Linked DNA regions of Homo sapiens: all the other regions are linked to region 4. Evidence: fine-mapped expression QTL. A gene starts in region 4. Each other region holds a variant in brackets. All regions are shown on one strand. Distances are between the middles of the regions.

What was found. PIP is the estimated chance that this variant, and not a neighbour inherited with it, causes the effect.
Region 1: its variant is fine-mapped to the expression of STK32B in B cells (Fairfax 2012, PIP 0.95).
Region 2: its variant is fine-mapped to the expression of STK32B in whole blood (INTERVAL, PIP 0.92).
Region 3: its variant is fine-mapped to the expression of STK32B in whole blood (TOPMed, PIP 0.97). The same link has a PIP of 0.9 or more in blood mononuclear cells.

Annotation. Positions count from the first base shown.
Region 1 is chr4:5,413,132-5,421,236 of GRCh38, forward strand. It overlaps STK32B (serine/threonine kinase 32B), which reads left to right. Exons shown (of 12, transcript NM_018401.3): 6 at 3,714-3,803. Among named protein-coding and RNA genes, the nearest start is that of LINC01587, 110 kb to the right of the region's middle. The variant C/T (reference allele first, on the strand shown) is at 3,681.
Region 2 is chr4:4,996,989-5,005,093 of GRCh38, forward strand. No RefSeq gene overlaps it. Among named protein-coding and RNA genes, the nearest start is that of CYTL1, 18 kb to the right of the region's middle. The variant C/T (reference allele first, on the strand shown) is at 3,562.
Region 3 is chr4:5,020,006-5,028,110 of GRCh38, forward strand. It overlaps a transcript of STK32B not described here. Among named protein-coding and RNA genes, the nearest start is that of CYTL1, 4.6 kb to the left of the region's middle. The variant A/C (reference allele first, on the strand shown) is at 4,909.
Region 4 is chr4:5,046,639-5,054,743 of GRCh38, forward strand. It overlaps STK32B (serine/threonine kinase 32B), which reads left to right and starts at 4,842. Exons shown (of 12, transcript NM_018401.3): 1 at 4,842-5,277. The coding sequence starts at 5,226. RefSeq lists an enhancer at 5,544-6,082.

The sequences.
Region 1 (8,105 bases), 370 kb after region 4:
ACCATCCTGTTAAGCCCTATAACTACCCCACAAGGCCCTATTAATATTATCCCCTTCTTACAGTTGAGGAATCTGAGGCTTTCAGAGCTTAAATAACCTGTCTAAGTCACATAGTCAGTAAGGGTCTGCATCAGTTGGGATACTAGCAGTAGCAAGGAACAAAGAGCCCAACTTAAACAGTCCTAGATAGTAAAGGGTATTTTTTAGCTGAAGTTCAGTGGAATCAGGCTTCAGGCAGGCTTTGATCAGGCTCTGGCACCATTTCTCTGCTATACTTGAAGCTCTGCCTTCTCCATGGACAGCCTACATCTTTATGCTGTTTTTCCTTGTGGTCGCAAATAGCTTCTGCAGTTCTAGGGAATCATATCCATGCATGACACTGTCCAAAGACAAAGGATATCATTTTGGGTAGCTCCTGAAAATTGGAAAATTATAAGAGAAACAACACTTAAAACAAAATTAACATTATTTGCATTTTTAAAACTTCTTTATAGCAAAAGGCACTATAAACAAAGTCAAAACACAAACAATAGGCTAGGAGAAAATATTTGCAATACACATAGCAGAGAAAAGGGCAAATGTATCTTGAAGACAAGGAGCTCCCAGTGAAAACTGACCAAGGGTCTGAGAGGCTGATCACATGGGAAACGGGCAGCCTCCTCTGCAGCGAGGTAACATTTCTCACCATATAACTTGCAAAACAAAACCACTGATAACAACTAGTGCTGGCAAAGTGCAGAGAAATACACATGCTCATATTCTGTTTATAGTGCCATCAATTATAACTTTTTGGAACATAATATGCGTACCCTTGGTCCCAGCAATCCCACTTCTGGGGATTTACTCAAAATAAAAGTACTAACATGTAAAGATATATTCAGGAATTCTTGTCACATATTCTATAGTAACAAGACAAACAATTAAGCAAGCAAAATTGGAAACAACCTGAATACCCATAATAGGGAATTGCTGAATAAATGATACATTGTATGATACAGACATCCTATGGAATACTGTGTAACTATAGGTCCATGGCTTCTTATCTGAAACCCTTGGGGCAGATATGTTTTCATAATTTAGAATTTTTTTCAGATGTAAAAATTCATTTATATTAAATAACATATATGATAATAATATAAAATAACGTGTTTAACACAATATGTAATAATATCTTAAATAATATATTTTTATACTATGTAATACTCCATACAGGTTTGGAGGAACACCTTGTAATCAAATACATTAATATTTCTACCGCAAAACGTGGATATTCATCCAAAATGGAATAAATAAAACTAAAAAAGAATGTTTCGGGTCAAATCTTACCACCAAAATAATTGTGGAAAAAATTGGACTTAGAATGGAGGATAAAGGATTGTGGATGTCATAGATAGACCTATGTATACTAGCTTGGGGGACATTGGGGAGCACTGTGGGTATATATTCTTAGGCACACTCCATGATACATGGCTAAATTCAAAAGTAATTTTTAGAGTGACCCATGCAGTATGATCTCATTTGGTTTGCAAGAACAAACCAAAGCCCCCATATATATGGATATACATTTGCATAAGCAAAGAGAAATCATATATACATTTGCATAAGCAAAGAGAAATCATGGAGGAGCCAGATGAATTGTGTGATTGATTACATGGGGGTGGGAGAGACATTGAGGGGCTTAAAGGGGTAACCCAAAAACATGTCTGTATTCTTTCACTTATTTTAATGAGCTGGCATCACTTTCATAATGAAAATACCAAACTTTTGAAAGAGGGAGAAGGCGCAAGAAAACCAAACAAAAACCATATTTGAAGGCTTCATAGTCCTCTTCCAATGCTGACATGTGTCACTCTGTTTGGAACTGTGTGGGTGTGGGGTACAGCAGTGACTACAACATACACTCACCTTCACATGCCTCAAAGTGCAAAACAGTAATGAGTTTGCTTTCTTGTTGGTATTAGAAATAAGGGAATAGGAGGGTGCAGGAGATAGATTTGTCCTGGCTGGAGAAGATGGGTTTTGAGCCACTCCTCGGCAGGATAATAATGCTAAAAGCAAACACTTATGAGAAGCTTCTCTACTTTCTGCATGTCACCATCACTCTAACCGTTTCATGTGTATAAACTCCCTGATTTCTGCGACAGCCTTCTGAGATGGGTATTTTATTATCATCATCCCATTTTATAGGTGAGGAAACTGAAGCCCAGGGAGATTAAATTATTTGCCCAAGGTTATACAGCTACTCCCAACAAAGCTGAGGCCCAAACCAAGGCAGTCTGGCTCAGAGTGTGTGCACCCAACTACTACTACACACTGCCACTTTTCAGACAGGACCATGGATGGTTGAATAGAGACATACTCATCGCAGCCACAGGGAGGGGCCTGAGGAAGCCCCAGAGGCTAAAGTAGCCTGGGTATGTTCTAGGAATGTTGCCTAGGTAGGAATACTGTGCATCCCAGCAAAGACCTGGTTGGGTGACTTCAGCTTCATCCACAAGTATCTGAAGAGTATTATGGATCCTCACTGAATAAATACCTTGCTGCTGCATCTCACCTAGGATCACTGGACAGATAGTTGGCTGAGCAGCTTGCTCACATGTCAGTGCTGGCAGTTGAGTCTGAGATTAGAGGGTGGTATGTTAAACTGCTGGTGCTTTTTTTGTCCACTGTAGCCGATCACATCAGGCATGCCCCTCCCATATGTAGTCCCATGGGCTTCTCAGCATGCCTCAATGCACCTGCTCCAGAATGTGTTTTCCCATCTCTTGGTGATGCCTTCCAAGTCCCTCAAAGTCAATTTTGCATGTGCCACCCATCTATGCATTTAAGTCCCACATGCCAAATGCCACTCTTAGGTTTGGTGAAAATCCAGCCAGCCATTTTCACATGATGTGATGACAGACAAATAGAGAGAAATGTAATTGCAGTTATAACTATTATCCAAGGCTTTCTGAGCTGGAGTCTTATATGTACCAAATTCCCCAAAAAGCAAGTACTGACCAAAATTTCCCAAAAAACAAGTACTGACCATTTGGGTGTTTCCTTCCTCCCTGTCCCCTTCCTTCCTTCTCTTCTGTTTCCCTCTTTTATCTGCACATCACTTAGTTTCCTTCCCTTCTTCTCTTTCCCTTTTCCTTCCTTGTCATGTTTCTTGAACACCTACTTTGTAGGTGCACCCAGCCTATCCATGCCCATCTGCTGCCATCACTTCATCCTGGATGGAAGGTGGTCTCAACACCACAGCCTTCTCCCTACTAAATTCCTCAATTACAGTACTAAGGTCTCCAATGACCATAGCGGACAAACAGCAGAACAAACAGTGTCCTCTGGGTGGGAGAATCCTCTTCACCTACCCCCGCCCCAGCCATAGCCCACCTACAGTTTTCCTGAGAGAAGGCGTCTGGAGTGACCTGTCTCAGTTATTTCTAGGAGCTTTAATTCTCCACATCAGTGTCTCCAAACTTTTAATTCATAAAAAATGTATCCTGCCCCTCAATATATTTATGTAAAAATAATATGCATAAGTTACCAAATGAATTTACATTCTGAAACATGCACACAAAATAAACATTTTTAAAGTATCAGATACGATAGTATTATAAATAGAAGTTCTAATGTTTTCTTCACGGTATCTCACCTTGCAAACCACAGCTTTAAATAACCCAGCTGCCTGCAGCCCA[C/T]GCTAACTGGAGTTTCTGTTTCTGTATTTGCAGGACATGTTCACATTACAGACTTCAACATAGCGACGGTAGTGAAAGGAGCAGAAAGGGCTTCCTCCATGGCTGGCACCAAGCCCTACATGGGTGAGTGTTCCAGGCCCCTTCTTTTCATGTGATCGGGCTCACTGCCTAAGACTCAGCATCCTTCTCTTGTTTCATCTGCCACTGCCCGCTGCCACATACCCTCCCATGCTCACATGAGGTTCCACAGTTCCCAGTAGATACAATGCTCCCTCGAAGCTCTGGACCTTTTCCAAGCTGTCTCCTCTGCTAGACAACCCCTCTCCTCTTGGTTTTCTAGAGAACTCCTGCTCAGCCAGAGAGCCATGGCTCAGGCTTGAGAGGGTGGCAAACAAAACAAGTATTTTCTTTTCCATTTATGTTCAGTATTTTCCAGAATTTAACTTGGTGGTGGTCATTCTAGGTCTACATTCTTAGGCACACAGTGTTCTTTCAATGTGTAGTTTTAAATGGTTTTTTAAGGAATTTTTATGGGATTATTGTTTTTAGTTTGCATTCTGTTCTCTTGTTTTTATCTTCTTGGTTATGGATGCCTCTTATCTGAATGCTGGATCTTCTTTGCCAATCTTCAGCATTTGTCAGTGTCCCTCAAATCTTTATTACCTCTTCCTTCATTTCTTTAAAAATGTTCTCATTGTTATATTTCTCTTCTCCCAAGGCATTATCTATTGTGTTTATTTGTTTTGTGTGTTTTCTACTGAAGTCTTCATTTCTGAAATCATTTTCCCTTTATTTCTTTCTCCCTAAGTTCTCCCACCTGATTTCTGAGTTTTTTATTCTAATTAATGTTGTTTTTCAGGTCTTATATAATTTTGTTAATATCTTTATTACGTGTTAATTCTGAATGTCTATATTGTTATCAATTACTGTGTAACAAACTGTGTCAAAACATAGTGGTTTAAGACAATCACAACGTTATTTCTCACAATTCTTTTGGTTGACCAAGTGGTTTTTCCTCAGGTTTGGCTGGGCTCACTCATGAAGACGCATTCAACTGGTAGGTCAGCTGGGAGCTAGGTTCAGCTAGGACAGCTGAGATGAACATATCATTCTTTCTCTATGTGGTCTTTCATCATCAAAGTGGCTAGAGTGAGCTTCCTCACATGCAGTTTCAAGATGGTAGAGCCAGTTCTCCCATGCTTCTCAGGACTCTGCCTGCTTCACATTTCCTGGTGTTCTGTTGGCCAAGGCAAGTCACATAGCCAACCACGTGGAAGGGAACTGCATGGAGCATGGCTATCAGAAGGCTGATGCACTGGGGAACCATTAATGAAACAACCCATCACTGTGTCTTTTAACTCTTTTGAAACGTAGGCTATAGTTTCATTCTGTTTTATCAGCACATCTTTCTGTGTGTTTTTATTGCAATGATGTTATTCTGCTCTTCATTCTCCTTTTACTTATAATAACTTGGTATGGAATTTGACTTTGATACTTTTCTGTTGCTCTTTTGTTTCAGTAATTGTTGATGATTATTAATATATCATATGCATGAGTTTTATGCCTAGATAATCCCCATTTACCATTGCAAATGATATAAGAAATACATGTTTAAGGCTAGAAAATGTAATCAGTGCTGCACAAAGGTGCACAAACATTTAAAGCCCATATTTCTCCATACCTTTCTTCCAATGGTTACTGCTATTAATGTTTTTCTTTTATTTTCCTTTTTCAAATGGAAGAAGGAGGCCTTAGGAAGCATAGAATCTGATAACTGGATGAAGCATTTATAGGCGGTACCTAACCAGAGGTACAACTTTTGCCGCAGAAAACTAACCACTGGGATGAGGAGTCCACCATCTTGGCTGAACTCTCTGCTGCTGTCTGTCATTCAGCAGTGAAAATGCCCTGTTCCCAGTTTGGCCTCACTTAACTCTGGCCAGGTTGTGCCTTATAAGGCACTGTATATTGAATTAAACAACCAAAATCTTTCTTCCCTGACCGCATAAACAGTGCCTAAAACCGCCTGGAGGAGTTAGAGTTGCACATGGGTATTGCAGTGGGGGAGGAGGCTTAGTTTGGACATGGTGGAGGGTTTGAATTCCACATGGCCTGAGGAAGAAGAGACCTCCCTGAGCCCTTGGCAAAGCCTAAATTCCAATCTATCTTCATGAACACTAGGTTTTTGGGGATCGGCTATAACTTTCTTATTGTCTTCCTTACAGATATAAAAAGAAATGACTATTTCCCTGGAAGGATAAATTCCACCTTTAGACTTGAGATCAAAATAGAGCCAGCTGAGGGGCCTCCAGCAAGAGAGAGGGGTAGAAATTGCTCATTTTATGTGAACTTTGTTTTTCTAAACTTTTAGAAGATGGTGTGGTTCAGGATAGCGTTCCTAACTTAACAGACCTATCTGTTGTATTGTTTGGTGAAGTGTCAAAATCTAAGGCAGCTTGCTATCCAGGTTTCCTGGCTTTGTTCTCCTCTCCCATTTTTATCTGGAGTTCTTCTTTCCTTTGTCTGTAGGGTCTCTGTCCTGAGGCAGTTTGGTTCTACTTCACACAGTTTTTCCTTGGGGCTTTTTCCTGGAAGGAGTTGTGGCTGGGTGGATTATAGACTTTTGATGTCCCAGACTCTTCAGTCTCCTTCAGAATTTATCAAGAGCCCTTTCAATGCCCCTGATACTAGACTGTACAAACTCCTACCAGCTTCAGCCGCTGTTCTCAAAGTCGTTGTCTGTGTTTCCCAGTGAATACCTGCTGAGTATTTTGGAGTTCTTTGTTTTCTGGTCCATAGAATGCTGCTTTGTTGCTTCTCTTGGTTTCTTTCCGTGTAGAAATCACTACCATGCGCTTCTTGTCACTGTTGTGTTTTGCTGCTACCCACCTGTATTTTGAGGGTTGTAAGGAGAACTTATTTTTGTAGCAAATGCATCCATGAGTTTTTGGTTTAGTGATCTATTTGCTCTGTTTTATATGCAGATTTGGGGAGATTCAAAATCTATACCATCATATCCCTAGAATCCACTACTCATGTCATTAATCTTTGATTTATTAAATAAATAGAATAAATGAAGTTTGACTATAAATACCTGCAATGGTATAAATAATAGGCAACTTGTTTTTGGGTATTTACTATATGTCAGGTACCGAGCTAAGTGCTTTCCACCTATAATTTCATTTAACATGAAGACAGGCACATTAACTATAACCTATAACTTCTTTTAATGCCCTCGAACATGAAATAGACACAAGTATTTCTTTCCATTTTAGAGTTAAGGAAATGGAGGCTTAGGAGGTTGGGTGACTTCCCCATGTTGACATTGTTGGCAAGAGTCAGACCCAGGTCAATGTGACTCCAAAACCCAAGCTCTGAAGTACATCTCAACCTGGACTCCCATGACAGCAACTCCTTTTTAGCAAAAATACCAGCAGATATCCATATAAGTGAATTCATTCACTTATAAGTAGTCTTCATGGGAGCCTGAACACTTACTCCAACAAGGCTTTTTTTGTTGACGACCTTTCTGAGATCGCTTTCTGGAAGGACCTGGAGCTGGGGCAAGTCTGACCAAAGAGGTCACTGCCTTGAGATTCAAGAGAGATCAACTGGGCGAGATTCAGCAACTGATGGGATGGAGAATGGGGGCAACGGCAACTTCTCGGGTCTCTGGATTGTGCAGCAGAGTGGTGCTCACTCTGTAGGGGACCCAGCAAGAGCAGTAGGTTTGTGAAGTGGCATGATGCAGACTGGACATGTGGATGGAGAACCTGCCAGCACTGAGATGCAGCACAGCCATGGAAGTGGACAGGATCCCCCAAGGAGGATGCAGGAAGGCAGAGAACCGATTCTGAGGCTCAAGAATGCTGTGCTGGAAGGGGCACGTGGAGGCTGAGGGGGACATCCCACAGGGGAGTGCTGAGAAGAGAGATGCCAGGTAAGGGCAGCAGCTCCCATTAGAAGCCTCCTCTGTATTCCTACCGATTCGTTCTGACTGCTTTCATGCTGTTTCCGAAAAGCAAATTGATGTCAAGGAGTGTAGATCCTGGACCACTGGAGAAGTTCGAGACAGTTTTTTTGTTTTGTTTTGTTTTGTTTTTTTAAGACAGAGTTTCACTCTTGTCACCCAAGCTAGAGTATAATGGCATGATCTTGGCTCACTGCAACCTCTGCCTCCCAGGTTCAGGCGATTCTCCTGCCTCAGCCTCCCAAGTAGCTGGGATTACAGGCACATGCCACCATGCCTGGCTAATTTTTGTATCTTGTTTTTGTTTTTGTTTTTGTTTTTGTTTTGAGACAGAGTCTTGCTCTGTTGCCCAGCCTGGAGTGCAGTGGCGTGATCTCTGCTCACTGCAAACTCCACCTCCTGGGTTCATGCCATTCTCCTGCCTTAGCCTCCCAAGTAGCTGGGACTACAGGCAC
Region 2 (8,105 bases), 50 kb before region 4:
ATGGTTGAACTAGTTTACACTCCCACAAGCAGTGTAAAAGTGTTCCTATTTCTCCACAGCCTCAACAGCATTTATTGTTTCCTGACTTTTTAATAATCGCCATTCTGACTGGCTTGAGATGGTATCTCATTGTGGTTTTGATTTGCATTTCTCAGTGATGATGAGCTTTTCTTCACATTTTTCTTGGTCACATAAATGTCTTCTTTTGAGAAGTGCCTGCTCATATCCTTTGCCCACATTTTGAATTTTTTTTTTCTTGTGAATTTGTTTAAGTTCCTTGTAGACTCTGGATATTAGACCTTTGTCAGATGGGTAGATTGCAAACTTTTTCTCCCATTCTGCAGGTTGCCTCTTCACTATGATGCTAGTTTCTGTTGCTGTCCAGAAGCTCTTTAGTTTAATTAGATCCCATTTGTCAATTTTGGCTTTTGTTGCAATTGCTTTTGGTGTTTTAGTCATGAAGTCTTTGCCGATGTCTATGTCCTGAATGGTATTGCCTAGGTTTTCTTCAAGGCTTTTATGATTTTTAGTTTTACATTTAAGTCCTTAACCCATCTCAAGTTAATTTTTGTATAGGGTGTAAGGAAGGTGTCCAGTTTCAGTTTTCTGCATATGGCTAGCCAGTTTTCCCAGCACCATTTATTAAATAGGGACTCCTTTCCCCATTGCTTGTTTTAGTCAGGTTTGTTGAAGATCAGATGCTTGTAGGTGTGAGGTGTTATTTCTGAGGTATCTATTCTGTTTCATTTGTCTATATGACTGTTTTGGTACCAATACCATGCTACTTTGGTTACTGTAGCCTTGTAGTATAGTTTGAAGTCAGGTAGTGTGATGCCTCCAGCTTTGTTCTTTTTGCTTAGGATTGTCTTGGCTATATGGGCTCTTTTTGGGTTCCATATGAAATTTAAAGTAGGTTTTTCTAATTCTGTGAAGAAAGTCGATAGCTTGATGGGAATAGCATTGAATCTATAAGTTACTTTGGGCAGTATGGCCATTTTCATGATATTGATTCTTCCTATCCACAAGCATGGAATTTTTTTTCCATTTGTTTGTGTCCTCTCATTTCCTTGAGCAGTGGTTTGTAGTTTTCCTTGAAGAGGTCCTTCACATTCCTTGTAAGTTGTATTCCTAGATATTTTATTCTCTTTGTAGCAATTGTGAATGGGAGTTCACTCATGATTTGGCTCTCTGTTTGTCTATTATTGGTATATAGGAATGCTTGTGATTTTTGCACATTGATTTTGTATCCTGAGACTTTGCCGAAGTTGCTTATCAGCTTAAGCCGTTTTGGGGCAGAGACAATGGGGTTTTCTAAATACAGAATCATGCCATCTGCAAACAGAAACGATTTGACTTCCCCTCTTCCTATTTGAATACCCTTTATTTCTTTCTCTTGCCTGATTGCCCTGGCCAGAACTTCCAATACTATGTTGAATAGGAGTGGCGAGAGAAGGCATCCTTACGCCAGTTTTCAAAGGGAATGCTTCCAGCTTTGGCCTATTCAGTATGATATTGGCTATGGGTTTGTCATAAATAGCTCTTATTATTTTGAGATATGCTCCATCAATGCCTAGTATATTGAGAGTTTTTAAAATGAAGGAATGTTGAATTTTATCGAAGGCCTTTTCTGCATCTGCTGAGATAATCATGTGGTTTTTGTCATTGGTTCTGTTTATCTGATGGATTACATTTATTGATTTGCATATGTTGAACCAGCCTTGCATCCCAGGGATGAAGCCAACTTGATTGTAGTGGATAAGCTTTTTGATGTACTGCTGGATTTGGTTTGCCAGTATTTTATTGAGGATTTTTGCATCAATTTTCATCGGGGATATTGGCCTGAAGTTTTCTTTTTTTGTTGTGTCTCTCCCCAGTTTTGGTATCAGGATGATGCTGGCCTCATAAAATGAGTTAGGGAGGAGTCCCTCTTTTTCAATTGTTTGGAATAGTTTCAGAAGGAATGGTACCAGCTCCTCTTTGTACCTCTGGTAGAATTTGGCTGTGAATCCGTCTGGTTCTGGGCTTTTTTGTGTTGGTAGGCTATTAATTACTACCTCAGTTTCAGAACTTGTTATTGGTCTATTCATGGATTCAACTTCTCCTGGTTTAGTCTTGGGAGGGTGTATGTATCCAGAAATTTATCCATTTCTTCTATATTTTCTAGTTTATCTGCATAGAGGTGTTTATAGAATTCTCTGGTGGTAGTTTGTATTTCTGTGGGATCAGTGGTGATATCCCCTTTATCATTTTTATTGTGTCTATATCATTCTTCTCTCTCTATTTCTTTATTAGTCTAGCTACCAGTCTATTTTGTTAATTAAAAAAGAACAGTTCCTGGATTCATTGATTTTTTGAAGGGTTTTTTGTGTCTCTATCTCCTCCAGTTCTGCTCTGATCTTAGTTATTTCTTGTCTTCTGCTAGCTTTTGAATTTGTTTGCTCTTGCTTCTCTAGTTATTTTAATTGTGATGTTAGGGTGTCGATTTCAGATCTTTCCAGTTTTCTGACATGGGCATTAATTCTATAAATTTCCCTCTTAACACTGTGTTAGCTGTGTCCCAGAGATTCTGGTACATTGTCTCTTTGTTCTCATTGGTTTCAAAGAACTTATTCATTTCTGCCTTAATTCCATTACTTACCCAAGTGTAATTCAGGAGCAGGTTGTTCAATTTCCATGTAGTTGTGCAGTTTTGAGTGAGTTTCTTAATCCTGAGTTCTAATGTGATTGCACTGTGATCTGAGAAACTGTTTGTTATGATTTTCATTCTTTTGCATTTGTTGAGGAGTGTTACTTCCAAGTATGTGGTCAATTTAGAATAAGTACTACATGGTGCTGAGAATGTATATGCTGTTGATTTAGGGTGCAAAATTCTGGAGATGTCTATTAGGTCCACTTGATCCAGAGCTGAGTTCGAGTCCTGAATATCCTTGTTAATTTTTTGTCTCATTGATGTGTCTAATGTTGACAGTGGGTGTTAAAGTCTCCCACTATTATTGTGTAAGAGCCTAAGTCTCTTTGTAGGTTTCAAAGAACTTGTTTTATGAATCTATGTGCTCCTGTATTTGGTGCATGTATATTTAGGATAGTTAGCTGTTCTCTTGTTGCATTGATCCCTTTACCATTATGTAATGCCCTTCTTTGTCATTTTCGATCTTTGTTGGTTTAAAGCCTCTTTTATCAGAGACTAGGATTGCAACTCCTGCTCTTTTTGCTTCCCATTTGCTTGGTAAATATTCCCCCATTCCTTTATTTTGAGCCTATGTGTGTCTTTGCGTGTGTGATAGGTCTCCCGAATACAGCACACCCATGAGTCTTGACTCTTTATTCAATTTGCCAGTCTGTGCCTTGTAATTGGGGCATTTATCCCATTGACATTTAAGGTTAATATTGTTACGTGTGAATTTGATCCTGTCATCATGATGCTAGCTGGTTATTTTGCACATTAGTTGATGCAGTTTCTTCACAGTGTCGTTGGTCTTTATATTTTGATGTGTTTTTGCAGTGGCTGGTACTGGTCTTTCCTTTCCACATTTAGTACTTCCTTCAGGATCTCTTGCAAGG[C/T]AGGGCTGGTGGTGACAAAATGCATCAGCATTTGCTTGTCTGTAAAGGATTTTATTTTTCCTTTGCTTATGAAGCTTAGTTTGGCTGGATAGGAAATTCTGGGTTGAAAACTCTTTAAGAATGTTGAATATTGGCCCCCATTCTCTTCTGGCTTGTAGGGTTTCTTCATAGAGATCCACTGTTAGTCTGATGAGCTTCCCTTTGTAGGTGACCTGACCTTTCTCTCTGGCTGCCCTTAACATTTTTGCCTTCATTTCAACCTTGGAGAATCTGATGAGTATGTGTCTTGGGGTTGATCCTCTCATGGATTATGTTAGTAGTGTTCTCTGTATTTCCTGAATTTGAATGTTGGCCTGCTTTGCTAGGTTGGGGGTGTTCTCCTGGATAATATCCTGAAGTGTGTTTTCCAACTTGGGTCCATTCTTCCCATCACTGTTAGGTACACCAGTCAATCGTAGGTTTGGTCTTTTCACACAGTCCCATATTTCTTGGAGGCTTTGCTTGTTCCTGTTCATTCTCTTTTTCTCTAATCTTGTCTTCATGCCTTATTTCAGCAAGGTGGTCTTCAATCTCTGATATCCTTTCTTCTGCTTGATTGATTCAGCTATTGATACTTGTGTATGCTTCAAGAAGCTCTCATGCTGTGTTTTCTTGGCTCCATCAGGTCATCTGGTTATTCTAGTTAGCAGTTCCTGTAACATTTTATCAAGGTTCTTAGCTCCTTTGCATTGGGTTAGAACATGCTCCTTTAGCTCAGAGGAGTTCATTATTACCCACCTTCTGAAGTCTACTTCTGTCAATTCATCAATCTCATTCTCTGTCCAGTTTTGCGCCCTTGCTGGAGAGAAGTTGCGATCATTTGAAGGAGAAGAGGCATTCTGGCTTTTGGAATTTTCAGCCTTTTTGCACTGGTTTTTCCTCATCATGGATTTATCTACCTTTGATCTTGGAGGCTGATGACCTTTGGATGGGGTTTTTATGTGTGAATCTTTTTTGTTAATGTTGTCGTTGCTGCTTTCTTTTGTTAGTTTTTCTTCTAATGGTCAGGCCCCTCTTCTGCAGGTCTGCTGCAGTTTGCTGGAGGTCCACTCCAGACCCTGTTCACCTGGATATCACCAATGGCAGCTGCAAAACCACAAAGATTGCTGCCTGCTCCTTCCTCTGGAAGCTTCGTCCCAGAGGGGCACCAGCCTGATGCCAGCTGGAGCTCTCCTATATGAGGTGTCTGTCAACCCCTGCTGGGAGGTCTCTCCAAGTTAGGAGGCACGGGGGTCAGGGACCCACTTGAGAGGCAGGAGGCAATCTGACCTTAGCAGAGCTGGGGCGCTGCGCTGGGAGAATCCCCGTTGGCAGGATCAGCTGCTCTCTTCAGAGCCAGCAGGCAGGAAGATTAAGTCCGCTGAAGCTGGGTCTGCAGCTGCCCATCCCCTCAGGTGCTCTGTCCCAGGGAGATGGGGGTTTTATCTATAAGCCCCTGACTGGGGCTGCTGCCTTTCTTTCAGAGATGCCCTGCCCAGTGAGGAAGAATCTAAAGAAGCAGTCTGGCCACAGCCGCTTTGTCATGCTGGGGTGAATTCCACCCAGTCCAAACCTCCCAGTCTCCTTAGCAAGGAGTGCATCTTCTTAAGTCTGGATATTGTCTTGTGCCTGGCACTAAGCCATGTGATAGCCCTCAGGCTGGCTCACATAGCCACACCATCCATCTACTATGCCCTTCCTGCCCCTCTTTTATTTGTCTGGCAATTCAGGGTGTCCTCTTCTGTCCTCCCCTCCAGGAAGTCTTCCTGCATCAGGCCCTTTGTTGGTAACTGGGGAGTTCTGTGCTCATGGTTCATCCAACCAAGGAAGACTGCTTTCCACACTGCTCTCTACAGAACAGCTGCGTCCTTTCGCCAGGTCCACCGCAGGCCTTTGCTCCACTTTGTGAGGCCTGACGTGTGCCCACTTTTTGATACCACTGTCTCCTATGTGATACCACTGCACAGTCAATGGGTTTGTCCTATTTTTTGTTTTTGTTTTTGTTTTTTGTTTTTTGACCAAGAAGCAGCCAGTAGGTTGGAAGACTTCAGGGTCAAAACAATCCTCACTCCATGCAGCTGGAGGCCTCCTGTGGAACCCCATGAAGTATCCCCAGCTCTCCTCTGCCTGCTGCCCCAGCCACCCACCCACCTAGGGGTGGTAGCAGTTAACCATCTCACTCCCAAAACACAGGACACAAGAGAACTTTGTAAAACAATCTTTGAAAACATGGAGGCAGGGCCAGGCGTGTTGGCTCACATCTATAATCCCAACACTTTGGGAGGTCGAGGCAGGCAGATCGCTTGAGGCCAGGAGTTCGAGACCACCCTGGCCAACATAGCAAAACCCTATCTCTCTAAAAACCCAAAATTAGCCGGGTATGGTGGCATGCACCTGTAATCCAGCTATTCGGGAGGTGGAGGCACGAGAATTGCTTGAACTCAGGAGGCAGAGGTTGCAGTGAGCCAAGATTGTGCCACTGCACTCCAGCCTGGGCAACAGAGCGAGACTCTGTCTCAAAAGAAGAAAAGAAAAGAAAACATGGAGGCAGGAGGGAGTAGGGTTATTCCACAGCTGAGAGACCAAGGCACTTGGCGGGAAGAGCCTTGTGTTCAAACTAGAGGAAGTGGTCCAAAGCCTGCTTCTGCCAGACACCTGTGCCTTCAGGTGAGCCACATCACTGTCTAAAAATCCCATTTCATTGTAATCTTTAGGATGGGAGATATCCACTGTGTTCTGAACACATCTTTCATTCATTTTGCATTTTGAAACACAAGGTGTAACATCAGCCACCATGTCTGTCCATGTTCTGTAAACTGCAGGGCATTAGAGAAAAAATAGAGGTGCAGTGAAGATGGGGGTGGCCCACAGGTCTGAAGCTGGACTGGGGAGGGGCGGCGGCTCCTTCCTCTAATGCATCCCCACTCTGAAGGGGAGACTTATTCCTCGGGCCCAGTCTCCTTGGAGGAAGCACCACCTGTGGCCAGAGATAAGCAGAAGCTATAAATCCATTTTACAGAAGTCACTCAAACAACAAGTGTGGCTTTATGACATCTGGGCTCCCCCTCCCAAGCCAGGCTGCAGTGCAAGAGAGGCCAGGCCAGATGTGAGAGGCTTATCAGCGATTTCAGGTGGTCTGCAACACTGATAAGAGGCTGACGACACCACAGCCACGGAGGGCCGGGGAGTGAGACGAGGCCATGCTGGCTGGGGTCTCAGCTCAGCAGGCCAACAGGAGTGGAGGGTGTCCTCTCCCTGGTGGCCCGTAACCCTCTGCACTGATCCTCCTCAGAACAGGTTTTCAATTTGTCACCAGGGTACTATGGCCCCAGGTAAATTCTCCAGCGTCAAAACTGTGCATACAAATTAATTTTCTTTGCTAGATAAGTGTCTTAGCCATGATATTATGCCTTCAGAAGAGGAATTGCTGTATTTGACTAATTTTACAGTAAACAGTTCCTTCATTGTTTTCCCACTTTTAATCAAAAGAACACTTAAAAAAGTAAAATACGCTGCTTGAAGGTGTGAACTCGCGGAATGATTGCAGACCTTTCCATGTGCAGCTGAGCAGAGGAGAGATGGTTTGGGAGGGAAGAATGGGGGGTCAGGTGCTGGGGGTTTGGAAAGTGTAAGAGGCAGAGCCTTGGAGACCCCATGGATACACAGGGGTGGAACTCAGAGGGTTGGTCCAGAATTACAGACTTGTGCATGGAGAGGGGAGAAAAGAGGAAGGATGGAGGGAGGGGAGGGCTGACTAGTCTGGTGGGAACAGCCCATTGAGTCCATGGCTGGGGAAGGGAATTCTCACAAGTGGCTGAAGACGTGAACGCAAAGGGAACACAGAGTGAAAATCCACACCCAACAGCAAAGGATAAAGAGCCAGGGGACAGCAGGGACAGACAAACCAGCAGGGATGCCTAGAGAACGATTTCAAGGCCTGGGATGCTTCAACCTTTATTTTTTTCTCCTTTCCTCAGGGAGCAGGTAGGATGCCAGGATGGGACTCGCATCTGCTCTGGTTGATGAGGCGCTGTGAGGATGGCAGGGAATGTTCTTCCCTCAGGAGGTGAGGAGAAGGTCTCTCACTCCCACAGCTTCTTCTGGTACTTTCTGGTAGATTAGCCCAAGACCCCTGCTTTCGGTGAGTGGATGGCCAGCAGGGGAGGGGTGGGCCCGGGAGGCCATTGACTATCCCAGCACACCTTGAGGAGGGATGGGGGTTGCGGGTCAGGGGAGGGGACTCGCGCTTTGGAGGTTCTACAGCTGAGCAGCTGTGTGGCTCCAGGCTGGTCTCTCTACCTCTCTGAGCCTCGTGAGCAATTGTCTAAGCTCCAGGCCTGCCCCTCAAACTCCTAAAGGCACATGTCAGTCCTGAAAAGCCCCCCAAAGGGTCTCATCAGGGAATCCCTCCACACGTGGAAAGAGCTGGAGCTCAGGGTCTGGAGACAGAATTCTACCACTTTTATGGCTGATCTGGCCTCAGCAAATTACTGAACCTCTTTGAATATCACTCTACCCCAAAGGCT
Region 3 (8,105 bases), 27 kb before region 4:
CCTTGGGCCAGGGCCCCCAGCCTCTCAGAAGCCGTGTGTGTCTCTCGGTCCGGAGGATGGGCTCACTGAGCGGCCGTATGTGTGGGGAGTGTGAGTACCCCCACCCTCTTCTACCTCAAGCTCCCAGCACAGGCCCCGAGGGAGAGCAGACCCTCAGGAAGGGTTAGTTTTCAAGAAGTGCATCTCCCTCAGGGCTAACTTCCCAAGACAGTGGCAGGTAAAGGTCTAGGCTCTCCACTTAGACGCCGTGGGTGCAAAGCAGGGTCACCGCCTTCTGGCTTTGACCTTGGGCAAGTTTCTTCAGTGTTTCCTCCATCTCCTTATCTGTGAGATGAGGCTGGTGAGAGTGGCTCACTCAAAAGGCCATAGTGAGGAATCAACAGGATATAGCATGACTGAGCAAGCCTCATGCCAGGCCCATTGTGTGTTTCCAAGTGATCGGAGCTAATAGCACTGTCTCTGTTAAATCCAGCAATTGTCTCTGTGAGGTAGGTGCCACAGAAAAGAGTCCCATTTTCCAGGTGGGAAAACTGAGGCTCAAGAGTTCCAGCAACTTGCTGGAGGTCACAAAGCTGGAGGCACATGGGTTGGGATGAGACTTCAGGCCCTGTCCTCCTGCCATTCTTCCATCCCACAGGGCAGGATGGGTGAGGAGCAGGACTCTTGCAGGCAGAGATGAGTTGGGGTCCTCAGGCTGCCCAAGATCAGGCAACAAGCAAGAAGGAACTGTCAAAAGGGAGAAGATTCTTCCTTAACACTGAACATGACTTACATACCAGCAGCCACCAGGCCAGCTGCCATTGGGAACGCTATGACCCTCACAGCCAGCCAATGAAGTGAATGGGGTTATTCCCAATTCCCAGGCGAGGAAACTGAGGGCCTCGGGGGATGTGAAGCTGGGAAGAGCAGTGGAGCCCTGGAGCTATGTCTGGACTTTCCTGCCTCCAAAGCTTCCTCCAACAAAGGAGGAAAGGGGAGCATCCTGGGCAAGCTCCACATTCCCAGAACAAAACAACCAAAGATGCAGCCCACAGGGATGGGTGAACCAGAGCATGGCATCCTGGACACAGGGCTGGACTGAGGATCAACCACAGGGATGAAGCCCGGCTCCAGCTTGTCCCCACTGTATTTGCCAGGAGAAATCCCTTCTCGACCTGGCCTCCATTCCCTGTCTGTAAACAGGATAGCATCACGCTGGGCGATGTCTGAGGTTCCTTCCAGCCCCAGTGTTTTATTTATCTAGTTTCTGGTGGTAAAAGCCCTGGGCAGGGACTGTAAGCTGTGCCTTCCTGTTTTGTAGGTGAGAATGTGTTCTCTAAACACCTTTAGCAAGATGACATAGGGACCGCGGCCTTCGGGCAGAACTGTGTGTGCTTGGAGGTGGCAAGTGGAGGCACAGATGTGTTTTCTTCTGGGTGAAGGAGTCTCCACACTCCCTCCATGATAGTGCCTGGGGCATGGGCCTCCCTGGCAGAATAGCTGGCCCCAGCTGGGGACTCTAGGTCTGCTTTAAAATGCTCTAGGGCTTCTGGATGTGCTCAAGGAATGGGCTTAAATTCAGAGCAGGGAAGAAAAACAAGCCCATGGACCAAACAAGTCCTGCACCATTAGATCAAGGAGACATTGCTGTGCTGGAAAACAGGAGTCATTTGTGAGATAAATGTACTGCTGGGAGACTTGACCTTGTTCCACCCGCAATACCGTGTGTGGTTATTCATGGGACTTCTTGGGTAAATCAGCTGAGCTCAGAGCTGCAAAGAGGCTTATAGGCCTTCCCATTGAGCATGAGAATGAATGAGTAAGTGGCTGTAGCCATAAGCTGTCACTGGTACCAACTGAGATATGGTGGATGCTGGGCCCCTGAGGAGTCACAGTCAGTGGGGAGACAAGGAATGAGGCTGTTGTGCACTGGGCCAGGTGCAAGAGAATCGCCACCTCTCACTCTACCAAGCCAGGAGTGGGATGAATGGGAAGAACACCAGAGGAGAGGGTGCCTCGTGCTGATTCCCAGGGCAGGTGGAGACAAGGAGAAACAGCCTGTGCCGAGCCCAACACACACAAGCTTGCCTGCCGAGCCCAATGCATGCCAGTGTGCATCCGGGAATTCTATCTGCTTTCTGGCCCTCTCCAGGGTTCCTCCGCATCCTATGCATGATACATTGACTTGCCTCCTGGCATCTGTCTCCTTTAATGACCATGCCCTTCTCTAGGAGAGAAAGACAGTCTTTCTCATCTGTTTCTCGGCACCCAGCACGCAGCCAGGTAGAGCGGATGACCAGTAAGGTGTGGCTGAATGGACTTGGTGACTACTCGTGTTACTCAGAGATTAAGGCACAAGCCCACTAAGAAACCTACGCAGGACAGCCTGACGTGGCTCCCCACCAGGGGCTCCCTATGAGACGCCGCACTGGATACAGGCTGGTGGACCCCCGCACGTGTGTTCTGTTCTCAAATGTCTCCTTCACCACGAATCACCTGCATCCTCCCACCAGCTCTTTCTCTGCCCCCTTCTGAGGCTCCTTCAGCAGTTGGCTGCTCCGAATATTAAAAATCCAGGCAGGAATTTGCCCACAAATCAGGTAAGCCCTTGTCTCCGCCAAAAGGTCTCTTCTGGTTTTCTTAATGTCTTACATCGGGCACGGACCCCATCATGCAGGAGAGCTGAAGAGTCAGAGTTAACGAGCAGGTGAACATCTCTGAGGTAGATATCGGCCATTGCCTTTGGATGGGTTCTTCATTTGCCAGATGCATGTCTATCTATTTATCGAGAGTCTGTTGTGTGCCAGGCACTGAGATGGGTGAAAAGACAGTGAATGACAGAGTTGCTATCCTCTCGGAGGAGATTGATGAGGGCAGCTGACACTCTGGGTGAGTGGTGTGATGGCAGAAATCCTAGTGTTTCTGGAGCCCCTAACCCATCACTGGCAGCTGCTCCCTATCAGGTGAGAGCTGAGAGGTGACGAATGCAGTGGGGAAGCGGGGTAGGTATGAAGGCATGTGTGTGTGTGTGTGTGTATATGTGTGTGTTTGTGTGTGTCTCTGTGAAAGACAGAGAGTGAGGGAGATTGTAAGATATTGTGCTGCTGGCTTTGAAGATGGGAGAAGAGGCCACAAGCCAAGGAATTCAGGAGGCCTCTAGAATGCAAAGAAAGATTCCTGCCTAGGGCCTCCAAAACGGGCCCAGTTAGACCCCTTCTGAGCCCGGAATTGTAAGATCATAAATTCGTGATGCTTGGAGTCCCTCGGTTTGTGGTGATTTGTTACAGCAGCCACAGGAAACAAGCATACTGTCTCTCTGGGGTTTGGTAGAATAACAGAAATTAATGTGGGAACCTAGAAATTATCCAGATCTACCTGCCTGCTGCTTATCCTTCCTTTACAGTCTCCCTGTCAAGTGCTTGTCCAGAGTCTGCTTGCATACGTCCCTGGACAGGGAGCTCTTTGCCTCTTACAACTTCCTTCCAGTCTCTGGGCAGCTCCAAATTCTTCCCAGGGTGGAGATGAGATGCGATGACACCCTGGTGCAGGCCTTCAAATCCTGTACCTTCTTATGCAGAACGGAGGTGTGGCGATGTTAAGACCATTCTCATTCTTCAATGTCTCTACCTCCACTCCTCCCTGCCCCTCAAAACAGAGTCAACTCTCTTTTGGAGCTACCATCCCCACTTCGTGAACCCTTTTAATGAGAAGTGGCCTCAAGACCCTTCAATTACATCACGATTAACGCCTCTCTGTCTAGAGCCCTATCTCCTCCCGGTGGCCATTTCTAAAGCAGAAATTCAATCTTGCTCCTCCTTGTTTCAAAGTCTCCCTGGCTCCCAGACACAAACCCTGCTGTGTGTCCATGAGTCTTACACTATGTGGGACCCAGACTGGAACACAACCCTTCCTGGGAGATCTGGTCAGAATGAGGCTATCAGTTTTGAGCCTTTCCTATGTCAGTTAGGACTGTAGGCTGTGTGTTACAGAAAATTCAGCATGAGACACCAAAGTCTGGGTTTTCTGGAAAGTGCAATTTGAAAATATAGAGGGAATCTGGAGCTCAGGAATGGTTTGATCCAGGAACTCAATGAAGTCACTAAGGAATTATCTCTTTCTCTGTTCTATATTGTGATAGTGTTTTCATGTGTCATCTTGACTAGGCTACCATCCTCAGTTATTCTAACACTAATCCAGATGTTACTGTGATGGTATTTGTAGATGTAATTAGAGTCCTTATGCAATAAGCTCTATGTAAGGGAGATGATTTTAGATACTCTGGGTAGGCCTGATTTACTCAGTTGGAAGGTCTTAAGAGCACAGCCAAGGCTTCCCTGAGGAAGAAAGAGTTCTGCCTGTGGAGTAGCTTTGTCTGTTCTGGTGATTCCAGTTTGCACTTCCTGAAAGCCTACCCTACTACAATTTTGTACTTGGCCAATGTCCACAATCATGCAAGCCAATTCCTTGTACTAAATCTCTTAATATCTCTCTGCCACTGGTCATGCTTCTTGGGTTGAGCTCTAACTGACACATATACCATTAGCTCCATCCCAAAGCCAGGCCCTGTCCTGAGAAGTAGGGTCTCCCTTGTGACCACTGAAGAAAGTCCTGAGCTTTGTGCTGGAAGCGGACCCTGCCTATGCCCTGTCCAAGCCTCCTCAGCCCTGACATTTAAGGGCAGGTGGGCTAGGCTTCACCTGCCAGCACCACCCTCTGCGACAGGCCTTCCTCTGGCCATAGGTGCCTGTTCTGCCCACGTTAGAGCAAGCCAGAGTATTGGGGACTCTTAATGCCTCCCAGAAGTAGCCCTCAACCGATGATTCATGAAAGTTGGGAAGAGTCTGGCTTCTGGTTAAAAATCTGTATGTCATCCATGGGCAGTTACAACGGCTTTACACAACAGGCCCCCAAGGGGATCGGGGGAGCTGC[A/C]CCCCCAACCCCAGGCTTGGGACACAGCCAGAGCTTTGCATGCAATCTCTGAAGGGAGTTGCTGTAAAATGCTCAGGCCCCCAGGCTGGCCAAACCCTTTACCTATTTGCCTGGCACCTTCATTCGTGGGTCTCTTTATCTGAGGACTTGGGCCAGGTCCTCCCCAGGCGCCTCTGCAGAGACCTCCGAGTATGGGAGGGGGGAATCCTTGACACCCTTCCCCCTTCTCTGACTCAGGACCCAGCACTTTTCTACTCGGGGCTGTTTCCCTGCCTCCCCCTCCGCCGTGGTCCATAGACCAGCAGGAACCTTTTGTTGGGGCTCCCTCAACAGTGAGACGACCCCCACCTCCACATCTATGCTGGTCCACTTGATCCCCCATAGTGATGTGAGGATGTGAGGAAGCACCCGTCCAGGGGGGAGGTGGAACGGGGGAGCTGGGCTTCCTCTAGTTTGGCCTCTTCCTTAGACCATTGCAGTGAGTGACCAAAGGCTTAACTCTCATTTTTGGCTCTTGCTTTAACTTGGCTGCTTAGACACCTGCAGCTCAGCTCTGTCTCAGCTCAGCTGAGCTCCTAACTCATTGGTGTGTAAATATCCCTACTCCTTTACCCTGTTGGTGGGATAACTCTGAGGTGAATTCTACAGTGTCTCCGAAAGTCCCCCAGCAGGATCAAGCTCTAGGGGTCCACAGTGAGAACTTGCTTGATGGTAATCCATGGATGTATTGGCTTTCTGTCCTTCTCTGTCTCATGTTCCCATTTCTCTACAAGTGTTTTCTGGGCTTGCTCTCAAAGAAACGTCTTGCACTCAAATCCTTGTCTCAGAGTCAGCTTTTGGGGAAACTCAAACTCAGACTATGGTACTGGCCCAACAGAGGAGTCCCCTCTAAACTATGACAAGAACAATGTGATCACACATATTGGCCTAGCCCACTAATGGGCCATGAAGGTGAGACACCCTGGGATGGGGTAAGTGAGGTGGGGCGGAGACATTACCACAATGTGAAGTACGCTTGTCTCTTTCTCTAACACAGCCCAGGGTGGTCCAGGACACCATGTCCCATGACCGACACCTCTCTTAAGCCGCCTCCCTTCCAGGCCTCCACGACTCCCTCCCAGTGCAGACCTTATCCCAGCAGCAGACATACACATGATGAGGAGATCCTTCCAGCAGATACCAAACCTCAGCTGCCCATTGCTTAAGTACCTTCTGTTTTCTTCTTGTGATCTAATATTTTCAGGATCTGAGACTTTTAAAAATCATTTCAGGAGAAAGAGCATTTAACCCTTTCCTGCAAGCTGTTCAGACAGGCATATTCCAATAAGTGATACAGGTAACCAGGGAAATACTCTTGGTTTTCAGTCCTGAGGGGTTATGGGATGTTCCCAGTTGTATTAGTCCAATCTCATGTATTAGTCCAATCCCAAGACTGGGTAATTTATAGGAAAAGAGGTTTAATTGATTCCCAGTTCTGCATGGCTGGGGAGGCCTCAGGAAACTTACAATCACGGCAGAAGGCATCTCTTAGCAAGGTGGCAGGAGAGAGAATAAGAACCGAGCAAAGGGGGAATCCCCTTATAAAACCATCAGATCTTGTGAGAACTCACTCACCATCATGAGAACAGTATAAGGGAAACCACTCCCATGATTCAGTTATCTCCACTTGTTCATGCTCTCGACACATGGGGATTATTACAATTCAAGGGGAGATTTGGGTGGGGACAGAGAGCCAAACCATATCACCAGTGAACTGTAAGAAACAGCAACCTGCTGTTGGCTGTGGCCTCTTGTGACATGGCTGGAACACAGACTATCACCTCTCCTGCCTGCTCCCTGTGTTCCCATCCTGTGCCCACTTGTGATGGAAACCCAGGCTGAAATGGACATCACCATTCTCAAATGTCCTCTGTTGCCCAACCTGCAGCCAATAGCTGTCTTTGACAAGGATTAGAAGAGTCCAGCAGCAGCTTCCATCTTTTTTAGAAAACATTGCACTAGACCACACGAAGAGTCTGAGTGCTAAGGTAAGAGCCTAGCATTGAACACATCAACGCTTGCAAAGAGGCTACCTCTTGTTCCCTCACTTCTGCCTGCATTTGAGGTCAGGAGCCACTAATCAAGCTGACAGCCAGGAGGTGTTGGGGTTGGGGTAGACTGAATACCTAGCCGGACATTGCCTCTGGTGCTCCTGTTGATATTGGTATTCCTTTGGTTAAAAGTAACACATCTTCCCCTGTTTATGTGATGTGTTTTTGAGCTTGTTGCTTTTGCTCTTGGCAAACCCAGGTGGAAAGTTGGCCCACATGGCCCAGAGTGAAGGAATGAACACAAACACCAAGGCTGGGCTTTGCTTTTGGGCAGAGATTATGAAAAGCGATTCATGTTTTAGAAGAGAGATTCCTTCATAAGCCCCCAAAACATGGATTTGAACTTTAATGAGAAACAGCAGGCAGGAGGAGCTGTGTCCCAAACATTGCCCCAGGCCTGGTACACAGAAAGGACTCAGAGAAAGTCCTTCAAGAAGGGTCCCAGCTTGTCCTAGGAGAAAAACTACAGGCTTTGGAGTAATACAGACTTCAGTTTAGATCTCACTTATGTTACCATGCAGCTGTGCAAATGTGGCCATTACTCATCCTCCTTTGATGTGGGGTTTATACCACTTATTGCACAGTTTTTGTGAAGAAGAAATAAACATGAAAAGCTGGAGTGACTGTGGTTTTGGTTTTTGTTCTTTCTGGTTATCAACCCTGTTCCATAATCCCATCTTGGTCTACTTCCTCCCTCCTGTTACAGGAGTGATGATGGGCCCATGGCTCAGGAGGGACTAATCAGTGTCTCTACCTGGTGTTGAAAGATGCACACAGGATGAGAGCTGCCCTCTCATGCCCCTACCATGGCTATGCTGTCGTTGCCAGCAGTTAAGTCTTTTGCTCTGGAGTGTGCAAGACCAGGAGGTACACAAGCAGAGCTGGGAGATGGATGGAGGAAGAGGATCTGAAGGGGCTGCATCCCTGCTTCCAGATCCAGAGGCTGAGACCTGCGTCTCCTTCTTGGACATCATCAGCTGCCCTGCGGTCATTTCTGGCTGCAGAGCTAATGCAGAGTTCCTTCAGCTTGAGCTGATTTCAGTGAGGTTTCTTTCTGTCCCTGGCAAATGAAAGAGTCTGACCAATACAGCATCCAGCAGAGTGCTC
Region 4 (8,105 bases):
CAAGAATAAAACAAACAACCACATAAAAACTGGGCAAAGGATATGAACCGACACTTCTCAAAAGAAGACATTTATGCAGCCATCAAACACATGAAAAAAAACTCAACATCAATGCTCGTTAGAGAAATGCAAATCAAAACCACAATGAGATACCATCTCACACCAGTCAGAAGGGTGATTATTAAAAAGTCAAGAAACAATAGATGCTGGTGAGGCTGTGGAGAAACAGGAGCACTTTTACCCTGTTGGTGAGAATGTAAATTAGTTCAACCATTGTGGAAGACAGTATGGTGATTTCTCAACGATCTAGAGTGAGAAATACCATTTGACCCAGCAGTCAAATTATTGGGTATATACCCAAAGGAATATAAATCATTCTACTATAAGGACACATGCACACATATGTTTACTGCAGCACTGTTTACAATAGCAAAATTGTGGAACCAACCCAAATGCCCAACAATGATAAATGGGATAAAGAAAATGTGGTACATATACACCACGGAATGCTATGCAGCCATAAAAAGGAATGAGATCATGTCCTTTGCAGGGACATGGATGAAGCTGGAAGTCATCATTCTCAGCAAACTAACACAGAAACAGAAAACTAAACACCACATGTTCTCACTCATAAGTGGGAGCTGAACAATGAGAACACATGGACACAGGAAGAAGAACAACATACACCAGGGCCTGTTGGGGGGTGGGGGATGAGGGGAGGGAACCTAGAGGAGGGGTCAATAGGTGCAGCAAACCACCACGGCACATGTCTACTTATGTAACAAACCGACACATTCTGCACATGTATCCCGGAACTTAAAGTAAAATAAAAATAAAAATAAAATAAAAGTCCAGAGGTCTGATTGATGGTTAATAGAGAGGGGCATCTCACAATGTTTCTGACAAAATCTCCATTTCAACACATCTGAAACCATCATTCACTCATTCCATCAACGTATATTTGTAAAGTATCAACTCTGTACCAGTGCTGAGCAAGACCCTGGGGACACACAGCCCTGGCTGCCCTGCAGGGCTCCTGGATGACAGGAAAGCCGGGTAGAAATCAGGGAGCAGTGGCAGGTGGTGAGTCAACGCATGACCTGGAGACAGGAGCTTTGCCACTAGGTAGATGTGGGGGTTGAACAGTGGCCCCCAGTAAAATATGTTGAAGTCCTAACCCCTGGAACTGTATGTGTGATCTTATCTGGGAAAACAGTCTTTGCAAATGGTTAAAGATCTTGAGAAGAGATCATGCTGGGATTATCAGGGTGGGCCCTCAATCCAGTAAGTGTCTTTTCAAGAGACAGAGAAGAAATGACACAGGGAGAGAGGAGGTGGCCATGTGAAGATGGTGGTAGAGACCAGAGTTCTCCAGCCTCCACCCAAGGAATGTTTGGAGCCACCAGATGCTGGAAGAAGCATGGAGACTCTGGAGATTGATTTTGACTTCTGGCCTCCAGAATGGTGAGGGAATAATTTTCTGTTTTTTTTTTTTACTTGTTTGTTTTTTGAGACAAAGTCTCACTCTGTTGCCAGGCTGGAGTGCAGTGACGCAATCTTGGCTCACCGCAACCTCCACCTCCCAGGTTCAAGACATTCTCCTGCCTCAGCCTCCTGAGTAGCTGGGATTACAGGCACATACCACCATGCCTGGCTAATTTTTTTTTTTTTTTTTTTTTGAGATGGAGTCTCACTGTTGTTGCCCAGGCTGGAGTGCGATGGCGCGATCTTGGCTCACTGCAACTCTCTGCAGGTTTCAGCAATTCTCCTGCCTCAGCCTCCCGAGTAGCTGAGGTCACAGGTGCCTGCCACCACGCTTGGCTAATATTTGTATTTTTAGTAGAGATGGGGTTTCACCGTGTTGGCTAAGCTGGTCTCGAACTCCTGAGCTTAGGTAATCCACCCACCTTGGCCTCCCAAAGTTCTGGGATTACAGGTGTGAGCCACCGTGCCTGGCCTAATTTTTGTATTTTTAGTAGAGACAGGGTTTCACCATGTTGGCCAGTCTCGAACTCCTGACCTCAAGTGATCCTCCCACCTAGGCCTCCCAAAGTGCTGGGATTATAGGCGTGAAACGCCACACCTGGCCAATTTCTGCATTGAAATCTTAGGTCTTTGCACTTCTCAACCATTTGAGTTGGCTTAGCCTATTTGTGCCCCAGTCTCCTCCAGAGTGGGGATGGTGACACACCTACCTCTCAGGGTTGCTGTGAGGATGAGAAAATCCATGCAGAGCGCTTGAAGTACCAGAGTCAGGCACATTCTCTATGGATGGGGAGCAGAGAAGTGAAGGGGTTGCCGGAGGTCCTAGCACCCTGCAAAGAGTTAGCACAGAGCTGGACATGCAGAGTTCTCAATACACATGCACGCTGTCACTGAACACTGCACTGCAAGACTAATTCCAGCCGTGTGGAACATCTCCCAGCATCTGCAAAGTGTCCCACTCTCTAGGCCTGGAGAACTTTGCACCAGTAGCCTCCTTTCTTCTTCCAACCCGGTTGATTCCTTGCCCTTCCAGTCTCAGCGCCAGCACCCTCTCTGGCCAATGCCTTCTTTTCTTTTGTTTTTTTTTTTTTGAGACGGAGTCTCACTCTGTCACCCAGGTTGGAGTGCAGTGGCACAATCTCAGCTCACTGCAACCTCCGCCTCCCAGGTTCAAGGGATTCTCCCACCTCAGCCTCCCGAGTAGCCGGGATTACAGGTGGGTGACATTTCTGTCATGCGTGTCCGTGTGAAGAGACCACCAAACAGGCTTTGTGTGAGCAATAAAGCTTTTTAATCACCTCAGTGCAGGCGGGCTGAGTCCGAAAAGAGAGTCAGCGAAGAGAGATATGGGTGGGGCAGTTTTATAGGATTTGGGTAGGTTATGGAAAATTAAAGTCAAAGGGGTTCTCTGGGAGGCAGGGGCGAGGGTCACAAGGTGCTCAGTCGGGAGCTTCTGAGCCAGGAGAAGGAATTTCACAAGGTAATGTCATCAGTTAAGGCAGGAACAGGCCATTTTCACTTCTTTTGTGATTCTTCAGTTGCTTCAGGCCATCTGGATGTATATGTGCAGGTCACAGGGGTTATGATGGCTTAGCTTGGGCTCAGAGGCCTGGCAATCACACCCAGCTAAGTTTTGTTTTTTTAGTACAGATGGGGTTTCTCCATATTGGCCAGGCTAGTCTCAAACTCTTGACTTCAGGTGATCCACCCGCCTCAGCCTCCCAAAGTGCTGGGATTACAGGTGTGAGCCCCCACGCCCGGCCTAGCACAATATCAATATATTCCTCATAACAATGTTAGAAAGGGAAAGTTCTCTTATTAGCACCTTCTGGACTCAGATGAAGAAACTGAGTCCAGAACAGGTTAAGTAATTTATCCAAGTTAACTGGCTAATGAGGGGCAAAGCAGAATGAAACCTGGGTAGAATGAGCCCAGAGCCCATGCCTGTCCACATTCCGCCCTATGCTTCTTGAGCTAGGGGCCAGCTCTGTGTTCAGGGCATTGCCTGCTGCACACTGGCTACTCAGTGTATGCTTGTTGGTGGAATGAAAGGCAAGAAATATTTATTCATCATTTATTATATGCCGGGCACTGTTGCCTGCTTTTATAAATATTACCTGATATAATTCTCACAGACAACCCAAGGAGTTAATATCAATCAGCCCACTTTGCAGATAAGAACTCCAAAGTGGGACACATTGCCAGTAAATGGTAGAGCCAGCTCTGGGTCATGGTGGGTGGGCCTGCCTCAGACCTTCTCAGTTCTTTCCCACTGCCTTTAAGAGATTTTTTGTTTTGTTTTGTTTTGTTTTGTTTCTGTATGAGTCTCCCCGGCTTCCCTCACCCTTCTCCCAAGAAAAAGAAAGAAGGGGAGAGAACTGGAGAGAGAGACCAGGTAGGGGACGGGGACTGGGGGACGAGATAGGATGGAGAGAGTCACAAAGAACCCCTGCTTTCTATCAAAGCACGGACAGTGGTTCCAGGCGCCCAGCAGATGGCAGGATGTAGCCAAAGATTCCCTGCAGTCCCGGAGAGCTGGGCCCGCAGGACTGCAAGGCAGGGGGACCTGCCTGTCCCTCAGGGAGCGTCCTGGGAACCCGCGCTCGCCCCACACGTCTTGGGGCGCATCTGCCGCACCCCTTACTTAGGCACCCGCAACTGTGGCGCGTATCTCCCGATCCAGGCTCCCGCCGCAGGAGCCCAGGGACCCTCATGCTAGCCTCGCCCCTAAATCGGACGCCGATGCCGCCCAATTTTGGGGGAATCCCGAGACTCATGCCCAGCCATTCCCAGGGAGAATGGTTTGGGGCAAACTATGGCTGTCTGGGGCCTCAGTTTCCCCATGTACAATGAAGGGGTCAGATTAGTATCTAATCTTAAGGGGTCAGAAAGTAAACAGATACTTTCATTCATTAAACACTGAGAAAAACCTTAAGAGGAACAGCGTCGGTTGGAGAGCCAGCAGACACTCCACTGCCCATCCCAATATGAATGGGCAAATACAGGCTAGCGGGGAGTCCTGGGACTCCCTTCGCAGCCGGGGCCGACTAACCACAGACCTAAGAGCCCCTCTACCTCTAGACCTCCGTCTACTGCGCTCTAAAATATGAACGATGCTTTCTTACTGCTGGGTTGTCGGAGGCGGATGTGGGATGGTGCTAACAAAGCGCGTAGCCGAGGCCTGGCCATAGTGGGTGCTGACAAACCGCTTACTGCCTGCAGGGACCGAGCTCCCGGCCGAGGGAGGAGGGCCGAGCAGGGATTCAGATTCTTCCGGGCCGATCCCTTTCTCAGCTCCTTCCGCCCTGCCGCCGCCCACTGCGTGCTGCCTTCGTCCGTCCCCTCCTCCCCCGCTCCTTCCCCTCCTTCCCCTGCTCCCGCGCCGCCTCGCGTCTCCCGCCCGCTGTAGCCGGCGAGGAGCGCCGCACGTTGGCCCCGGCGCGAGGAGCTCCCGGGTTCCCGGGCGGGCACTGGAGTAAGGAGCTGCGAGCGCAGCCCGAGGCGGGGCACGGCGGAAGGCGCGGCGAGAGCGGGGTCCCTGCGAGCGCAGTCGGAAGGGCGTCCAGGAGAAGGGGGACGCCGTCCCCGCCCCTGCACGGTGCTCGGCCCCCTCGGGCTCCGCGCGCGGCTACAACCCGGACTGGGCGCGCCCCCGGCATCCCGCATCTCTGCGCGCGTCCCACATCCCGCATCCGGCATCCCAGCGGCCGGGCATGTAGCAGCGGCAGCAACGGCGGAATATGGGCGGGAACCACTCCCACAAGCCCCCCGTGTTTGACGAGAATGAGGAAGGTAAGAGAGCGAGAGGTGCGAATTCCCGCTTCGCGGGGCATCCCCTTCCTCCACCACCCTCGGCCGAGCCCTGCGGGGCACCGCATGCTGCCCGGCGCGGGGACCCAGGCATGGCCACTTCGCCCAGCGAATGCAGTGTGTGCCCGACCCGTGCCAGGCGCGGCGCTTCTGCTGAGGCAACTCCTAGGTACCCAGTGCCGTTTAGTAGTCGGGACGGTGCCTAGCGCGGGACTGGGGAGGCGGCTTCAGAGAGTTGAACCCGAAACCTGCACTTGGGGGTGTGGAAGGGAGGAGTTGACTTCGGAGGCCAGTCGGGATGGTTCTAGGCTCGGGCTCCCCAGGAAACCGAGGTTTCCTTGAGAGCCTGAGGCTGACGGAGGTGGCCTGGAAGGGCGGGTTGCACCGTGTGTCTGTGTGTGTGTGCGCGTGCCCACGACGCATTTGGTCTCGTGCAAGGGCCTGTTGGATGCAGCTCTCCTCAATCACCCAGGACAGAGGGAAACTTTTCTTTGCTAAACTCTGTGGTTCCTAGGAGGGCGTCCTGTTCTGGGCAGCCTCCCCCTGGCGCAGAAGTGGTGTAGGCTGTCCAACCGCATCTCAACTTCCTGGCTGGATCCTTGCGGTTCAGGTCGATAGAGCTCCCTATTTGGACTAGCAGAACCCTCTTTCCAGTGCAGCGTGTCCCTGGAAAACTTACTTCACCTCTCTGAAACATTAGTCCCTTCATCAATGAAATGTGAGTTATGATACCACTAGCTACTTTATAGGGTTGTTTGAAGCTTAACCACTAGTAATCCACGTGAAAAGTGCCTTATAAATGCAAGCAGTACCGAGCTGTGCCGTTTTTTATGTTAAGAGCCCTCTGCCTCTCAAAGCTGGTTTCCTACTGTGCTGACTCGCCAGTCTCCACTGTGCCCCAGGTAAGAGCTGAGACATACTGAGCACTTACTATGTTCCAGCCATGCTAGCACATAGTGTTCACTCCATCCTTTTCATGCCCCTTGAGGTGGCTACCTTAGAAAGGGGTCTGTCCTGGTTACTGCTGGTAAGAAGTAGAGCTGGGCTTGAGGCAGGACAGTCTGCTTTGAAAGCTGTGCCTGTCATCATTACCCAGGGCACTGGCTGTGTGCGTACATCATGGATGGCTTCTAGAACTCCCAAGGCTGTGAGTGCTACTCAGATGCCTGCCTGGACAGCCCTTCTCAAAAAGATAGATGAACACAGTCAAGGTTAAGTGAGCACCTGCTGTGTCAGGCCCACGAGAGCCTTCCTTAAAGGAGTTCCTAGTCTAATGGCCCTGAATGACCGTCCATGGTGATAAGGGCATTGAGAAACCAGTGCAGGGTCTTGGGGGCACAGAGAGGCCCCAGCTTTTCCTGATCTTTAGTCTGGAGCATGTGCAGGTGAGCAGGTAAGGAGCCAGTTGTGGACAGAGGAGAGGTGGGCACAGAGGTAATGGAGGCTCTTGCATGTCCCAGTAAGAGTTTGAACACTATGCAGCATCACCCTCAATTGCACGGGCTTGTGGTTCTAGCCTGGGTCAAAGGTCATGCTTTTGCTAATTTTCCTAGCATCTTTCTCTTTTATTTACAGAGGAAATTTGCCACCCTTATATTGAAAACCGTCTCTGTCATTTATCCCCAGCTTGAAAATATTCATTGGCAAAATAGTTATCTCTGGTGTAGCCAACCTTTTGATTTTCCTGTTCCTGTTCCTTATTCTATAAGCAGATTGGGCCTAAGGTTAACTGCCTGTTTCGGTGCTTGTTAAAATACAAGGTTATGAGGCCGGGCGCGGTGGCTCATGCCTGTAATCCCAGTACTTTGGGAGGCCGAGGTGGACGGATCACCTGAGGTCAGGAGAGGCCTGCCTGGCCAACATGATGAAACCCCGACTCTACTAAAAATACAAAAATTAGCCGGGCATGTTGGCGGGAACCTGTAATCCCAGCTACTCAGGAGGCTGAGGCAGGAGAATCGCTTGAACCCGGGAGGCGGAGGTTGCAGTGAGCTGAGATCGCACCATTGCATTCGAGCCTGGGCACCAAGAGTGAAGCTCCATCTCAAAATAAATAAATAAATAAATAAATATAAATAAATATAAGGTTAGGGCTCTCCTCATTTTGCCATTGCCCAGCCCAGTGAAACATTAACTTGTTTGATTTTGCCAGTATGTCTCTCACACGTTTCCTAGTACAGGTAAAACAGTGTTACTTGCCACCAACCGACTCATTTATTTCGTAGGCATTTACTATTTGTATTTTCTGTACCCACCCCTGTGCTGGGGACCGGGAATATGAGGAGGATGAAGGCAAAGTGTTAACAATTTGCTCCCAGAGCAAGTAAACCACCTGGAAAACACAGGGTGTGTAAGTGCCCTGACGTGGGTGAGCTCAGGCGACTGATATCCTGGAGGAGGGTCCCTAACTCAGAGTGGGGGGAGGGATCTGAAAAGGCCTCCTCTTTTAGACTGGCATCTTGCAGAAATGGCAGGAGTTACCTGGGGGGAAGAAGTGGGTGATAGAAGGGGGAAGGACGTTTCAGAGAAAGGGAAGAGTATGTGCAAAGGCAGATGGTAAAGAGTAAGCCTGGCTCATGTGGGGGGATTGAGGGGGCTTAGTACTCCTGCATTGTGGAGTATGAAGCTGAAAGGCACAAAAGATGAACCCTGAATGCCTGGCCGGCCTTAAAGGGCCCAGTGGCCGTGGTCAGGTGTTTGGACTTGATCTTATAGGCATTTTGGAGTCACTGAAGGGTTTTAAGCAGGGAGTGACATGGTCCAGTGAACAAGCTCTCCCAAACCATAGTCATTGCGTGGTTGAAGGTTGA